Regions from separate parts of the Homo sapiens genome. Here region 2 is linked to region 1. The links come from fine-mapping of genetic effects on plasma protein levels. Region 1 holds a variant in brackets. A gene starts in the other region. All regions are shown on their reverse strands.

Region 1 (2,888 bases):
GAGTGACTTCCAAGGAACCCATGTGCGCTGTCAGACAGCCTGGGTTCCAGGTGGCACCTCTGAGAAATGGGGATAATGATGTCAGCCTCAGAGGCTGTGACAAGCTCAAGGAGCAGGAAGAGAAAGATTCTGGCCGGGCACGGTACTTCATGCCTGTAATCCCAGCACTTTGGGAGGCCAAAGGAGAAGGATGTCTTGAACCCTGGAGTTCAAGACCAACCTGGGCAACATGGCAAAACTCCGTCTCTACAAAGAATACGAAAATGGCCGGGCACAGTGTCTCACGCCTGTAATCCCAGCACTTTGGGAGGCCGACGCGGGCGGATCACTTGAGGTCAGGAGTTCGAGACCAACCTGGCCAACATAGTGAAACCCCGTCTCTACTAAAAATACAAAAAATTAGCCAGGTATGGTGGTGGATGCCTGTAATCCCAGCTACTCGGGAGGCTGAGGCAGGAGAATCACTTCAACCCGGGAGGTGGAGGTTGCAGTGAGCTGAGATCACGCCATTTCACTCCAGCCTGGGCAACAGAGAGAGACCCAGTCTCAAAAAAAAAAAGATTCTAGCTAGGGTGAGACAGCAGGAGCTAAGAGGTCTGTGTCCTTGTCCTCCCCGCCCCTGCACACACACATATGTGCACACACATTCATGGGCACTTGGCAGCAGAGTCACACAGCAGTAAGGAGTATATGTAGCCTGGGCACATGGCTCGTGCCTGTAATCCCAGCACTCCGGGAGGCCGAGGCAGGGGGATCACCTGAGGCCAGGAGTTCAAGACCAGACTGGCCAACATGGTGAAACCCCATCTCTACTAAAAATGCAAAAAAAATTAGCCTGGTGTGGTCGCACCCTCCTGTAATCCCAGCTACTCAAGAGGCTGAGGCAGGAGAATTGCTTGAGCCCAGGAGGAAGGAGGTTGCAGTGAGCCGAGATCAAGCCACTGCACTCCAGCCTGGGCCACAGAGAGAGACTCTTGTCTTAAAAAAAGAAAAAAAAGGAGTATATGTGGAGCTCCAGCCCACGGCTCCAGGTTCTCCTAAGACCCTTCAATGCCTGGATCTACAGATGAGAAAACTGAGGCAAAGGGATGTTGGTAACCTGCCTCAGCTCACTTGGCTGGTGGTGGCAGACGGATTTCATCCAGCCTGTTTTCCCATCTGTAAGGATCAGGATGAGGATGGCCTCCCCGGATAGCCTCAGACCCTCACCTTGCCCCATAACCCCCAGGGGACAACCTGCAGACAGCGGTGACTGTGGCCCGGGGCTGTGGCATGGTGGCCCCCCAGGAGCATCTGATCATCGTCCACGCCACCCACCCTGAGCGGGGTCAGCCTGCCTCTCTCGAGTTCCTGCCGATGGAGTCCCCCACAGCCGTGAATGGCGTTAAGGTGAGGCTAACCCAGAGTTCCAGCTGTACCTCACCCAGTGACCCCACCCCTGTGTCACCTGACCCAGGCCCCAACTCTCCAGGGTGGGCAGGGGGAGCTAAGCTGAGCTTCCTGGGCCCCCAGGATCCTGACCAGGCTGCAAGCTACACCGTGGAGCCAGACCCCCGATCCAGGCACCTGGCCCTCAGCGGGCCCACCTTTGGTATCATTGTGAAGCACTTCCCCAAGCTGCTGCCCAAGGTAGGGCCGCCCCCAGCTCCCTGGCCGCCCTGCGCCTCCCCTGCTCTGTCTCCTTCCTCACGGCTCGCTCTCCCTGGTGGGTGCCTCAGCCCTCCCCCATCTCCCTGTGCTCCCAGGTCCTGGTCCAGGGCACTGTCTTTGCCCGCATGGCCCCTGAGCAGAAGACAGAGCTGGTGTGCGAGCTACAGAAGCTTCAGTGAGTGCTCGGCAGAGGGTGTGGGCAAGGGCCTGCGGAGACTGAGCTTGTCCGTTCGTCTGTTCATCTGTCCTTCCCCAGGGCCCTGTCTCCCTCCTCAGGCACCAGAGAGCTGTCACCCCTCCTCACCAAAAGCAGGCAGGCTCTCCCAGGTCTTTCATGCTAAAAATAATAATTGTAGGCTGGGTGCGGTGGCTCATTCCTGTAATCCCACCTCTTTGAGTGGCCGAGGTGGGAGGATCACTTGAGCCCAGGAGTTTGAGGCCAGCCTGGGCAACAAAGTGAGACCCCATCTCTTATTAAAAATTTAAAAATTAGCCAGGTGTGGTGACACACCGGTCATCCCAGCTACTCAAGAGGCTGAGGCAGGAGGGTTGCTTGAGCCTGGGAGGCTGCGGCTGCAGTGAGCCATGATCACACCACTGCACTTCAGCCTGGGCAACAGAGCGAGACTCCGTCTCAAAAAATAGTAATAGGCCAGGCGCGGTGGCTCATGCCAGTAATCCCAGCGCTTTGGGAGGCTGAGGCAGGCAGATCACCTGAGGTCAGGAGTTCAAGACCAGCCTGGCCAACATGGTGAAACCCTGTCTCTACTAAAAATACAAAAATTAGTTGGGCATGGTGGCGCACACCAGTAATCCCAGCTACTCAAGAGGCTGAGGGCACTTGGGCAGCAGAGGAGGTTGTAGTGAGCAGAGATCACGCCACTGCACTCTAGCCTGGGCAACAGAGGGAGACTCTGTCTCAAAAAATAATAGGC[C/T]GGGCACGGTGGCTCATGCCTGTAATCCCAGCACTTTGGGAGGCCGAGGCGGGTGGATCACCTGAGATCAGGAGTTTAAGACCAGCCTGGCCAACATGGTGAAACCCCATCTCTACTAAAAATACAAAAAATTAGCCAGGCGTGGTGGCGGGCGTCTGTAATCCCAGCTACTTGGGAGGCTGAAGCAGGAGAATCACTTGAGCCCAGGAGGCAGAGGTTGCAGTGAGCTGAGATCATGCCATTACACTCCAGCCTGGGCAACAAGAGTGAAACTCCGTCTCAAAAAATAATAATAATAATGAT
Region 2 (2,831 bases), not on the chromosome of region 1:
TCCCTCTTTAGGTTCAGCCCATTAAAAAATTCAGTTACACGAGCAAACAAATCAATAACAAGATGATGTCAACTGTTTTATGAAGATGAAACAGGGTGGTGTGTTAGAGTCATGACTGGGGTGAGGGAGGGCTGCTCTAGATTGGAGGTCAGGGATGGCTACTCCAGGAGCTGATATTTAATCTGAGAGGAGCAGTGATGAGGAACTACCCTCTAACATCCTGGAGAGGAACCTTCCAGTAGAGGGAAGGGGGCATTCACTTGGCTTGTTCAAGGAGCAGAGAGAGGGCCAAGGCAGCACAGTGTGGTGGGTAAGGGAGAGCAAGAGGCCAGATGAAATCAGAGCGGGGGCAGCCAGCTAGGGTTTGTAGGCCAAGGCCAGGGGTCGAGGCTTTATTTCAACAGTAGATATTACCTGGGCTTGTCTTTTGTGTGGTGTGGGAGGTTGTGAACTGGTGCCCACATGCCAGCTCCTTCACTCTGCCTCTCTGGGAAATAGGCTGTACAAATGTGCCAGGGGCAGCCCTGTTGATCCAAGCCTTTAGGCTGTAGGGAGGGAGCATGGGTGAGAATGGTGTGCTGATTACTGGGGACACGCAGACAGCGGCAGTCAGCATTCCCACACCCCTGCCCGCCTCCCTGCTAACACAAGATGTGAATGCACACACTGGGTCAATCGGGGTCACCGAATCCCCCTCTGGGAAATTCCCGAGAGAGTGAAGGGCTGGGTGGGATCCCGGGAATGGATTCAGCCAGAGGCGGGAGGCCTAGATTCCACTCCCCTCTTTCACATGCGCTATCTCCTTGAGTGACTTACTCAAGAGGCTCCGTGTCTTTGCCTCGGTGAAAAAGAGGACCCCTTGGCCGGGCGTGGTGGCTCACGCCTTTAATCCCAGCACTTTGGGAGGCCGAGGCGGGCGGATCACCTGAGGTTGGGAGTTCGAGACCAGCCTGACCAACATGGAGAAACCCCGTCTGTACTAAAAAATAAAATAATATACAAAATTAGTCAGACTTGGTGGCGCATGCCTGTAATCCCAGCTACTAGGGAGGCTGAGGCAGGGGAATCGCTTGAACCCGGGAGGCGGAGGTTGCGGGGAGCTGAGATCGCACCATTGCACTCCAGCCTGGGCAACAAGAGCGAAACTCCGTCTCAAAAAAAAGAAAGAAAGAAAGAAAGAAAAGAAAAAGAAAAAGAAAAAGAGGACCCCTCTTCTACCGGCAGCCATCACCGCGCCAGGCTCAGGCGTGACCCTCACGCCAGTGGAAGGGGATTGAGATCCAGAGCGAAGGCGGCGGCGCCAGGGCATTGCAGCCACGGAGCGCCAGGGCCGCCAGCTCCGCCAGGGGGCGCGCCCGGGACCTCCCTGCGCTCCGCGCGCCGCGCCCCGCCCCGCGCCACCCCCGCTCCGGCCGGCCCTGCGGAGGGCGCCCCCAGCGGCCAGGGCGCAAGCGGAGGGGGCGGCGGCCCTGTTCCCCTACGCGGGCCTCGGCGCCCCTCCCGGCTTCCTTCAGACCTGCAAGGCTGCAGCCTGGGTCCCCCGATCCAAAGACGGTCCCTGAGGCGAGGGGCGGGAGAACGATTCGGGGCAGGTCTGCAGTTCGAACTTGCCCAGAGCAGGAGAAAGGCGGCCCAGTGTCCCGGTCGTGGCAGGCGCCATCTGCCCGACCAGCGCCTGGGTCAGCCCCGCGCCGCCCCCTGCTCCGCACGGGTTAATCCCCCTCGCCGCCCGCTCGCCGCCCGCTGGCTTCCCGGTGCCAAAGTGGGTGTTGCTGGAATTCCTCGCTCCCTCTCCGGTAATGAGGGGGCTGAGCTGTCCCTCCGAGGAGGGGGCCTGGTGTGGATAAAAGAGACGAAAAAGCCGGGGGAGGTTTCCAAAAATAAAACCGTCCGGGTCCCCTTCAGACGGCTGCAGGCACAGGGAGGAGGCGCGAAGGTGCAGCAGCCGTGCGAGCCCAGCTGGAGTAGGAGCGCGGACTCGAGGCTCGGGGCGCGCAGCCCTCGTTCCGCCGAGAGCCGGGCCCCCAGTCGGCCGCTTCAGGGCCCCCTAGACTCAGAGAAGCTGGCCGCCGGGCGGGGCCGGGAGAACAGCCCGCGGGCGTCCAGCGTGCCGACCACAAAGCTCTTCGCGGTGCCCGCGCGCACCACTCTCCAGCCGCCCCGCGCCATGAGGCCGCGGACCAAAGCCCGCAGCCCGGGGCGCGCCCTGCGGAACCCCTGGAGAGGCTTCCTGCCGCTCACCCTGGCTCTCTTCGTGGGCGCGGGTCATGCCCAAAGGGACCCCGTAGGGAGATACGAGCCGGCTGGTGGAGACGCGAATCGACTGCGGCGCCCTGGGGGCAGCTACCCGGCAGCGGCTGCAGCCAAGGTGTACAGTCTGTTCCGGGAGCAGGACGCGCCTGTCGCGGGCTTGCAGCCCGTGGAGCGGGCCCAGCCGGGCTGGGGGAGCCCCAGGAGGCCCACCGAGGCGGAGGCCAGGAGGCCGTCCCGCGCGCAGCAGTCGCGGCGTGTCCAGCCACCTGCGCAGACCCGGAGAAGCACTCCCCTGGGCCAGCAGCAACCAGCACCCCGGACCCGGGCCGCGCCGGCTCTCCCACGCCTGGGGACCCCACAGCGGTCTGGGGCTGCGCCCCCAACCCCGCCGCGAGGGCGGCTCACGGGGTGAGCATGGGAGAGGGAAGTTTGGAGGGTACAGAGGGGAGCCAGGGCTCATTTGTGGAGGGGCGTGCAGGCGAGAGGAGAGGGCGCCGCTCTCATACCCTCGTCCCTCTGTCTTTAGTACTTCGGGAAACAGCCCCGAGGTTCCAAAATCGGGATTGGAAGATTTGATC

Which allele goes with the higher level. Alleles are on the strand shown, and positions count from the first base shown. The strength of an association depends on the size of the effect and on how common the allele is.
With allele T in place of C in region 1, the plasma level of the protein whose gene starts at base 1,875 in region 2 is higher (weak association).

What was found. PIP is the posterior inclusion probability: the model's chance that the variant is causal. Protein levels are from antibody-based Olink assays in UK Biobank. Linkage for the fine-mapping came from a reference panel and not from the study's own genotypes, which makes the PIPs less certain.
Region 2: LTBP2 starts here. The variant in region 1 is fine-mapped to the plasma level of the LTBP2 protein (UK Biobank, PIP 0.96).

Annotation. Positions count from the first base shown.
Region 1 is chr1:16,988,628-16,991,515 of GRCh38, reverse strand. ATP13A2 (ATPase cation transporting 13A2) reads left to right here. Exons shown (of 29, transcript NM_022089.4): 21 at 1,229-1,389; 22 at 1,513-1,629; 23 at 1,746-1,825. Among named protein-coding and RNA genes, the nearest start is that of MFAP2, 9.5 kb to the right of the region's middle. The variant C/T (reference allele first, on the strand shown) is at 2,586.
Region 2 is chr14:74,611,281-74,614,111 of GRCh38, reverse strand. It overlaps LTBP2 (latent transforming growth factor beta binding protein 2), which reads left to right and starts at 1,875. Exons shown (of 36, transcript NM_000428.3): 1 at 1,875-2,661. The coding sequence starts at 2,168. LOC101928352 (a long non-coding RNA gene) reads right to left here and starts at 927. Exons shown (of 2, transcript XR_944029.4): 1 at 817-927; 2 at 64-545. RefSeq lists a silencer at 1,245-1,564 and an enhancer at 1,192-1,819.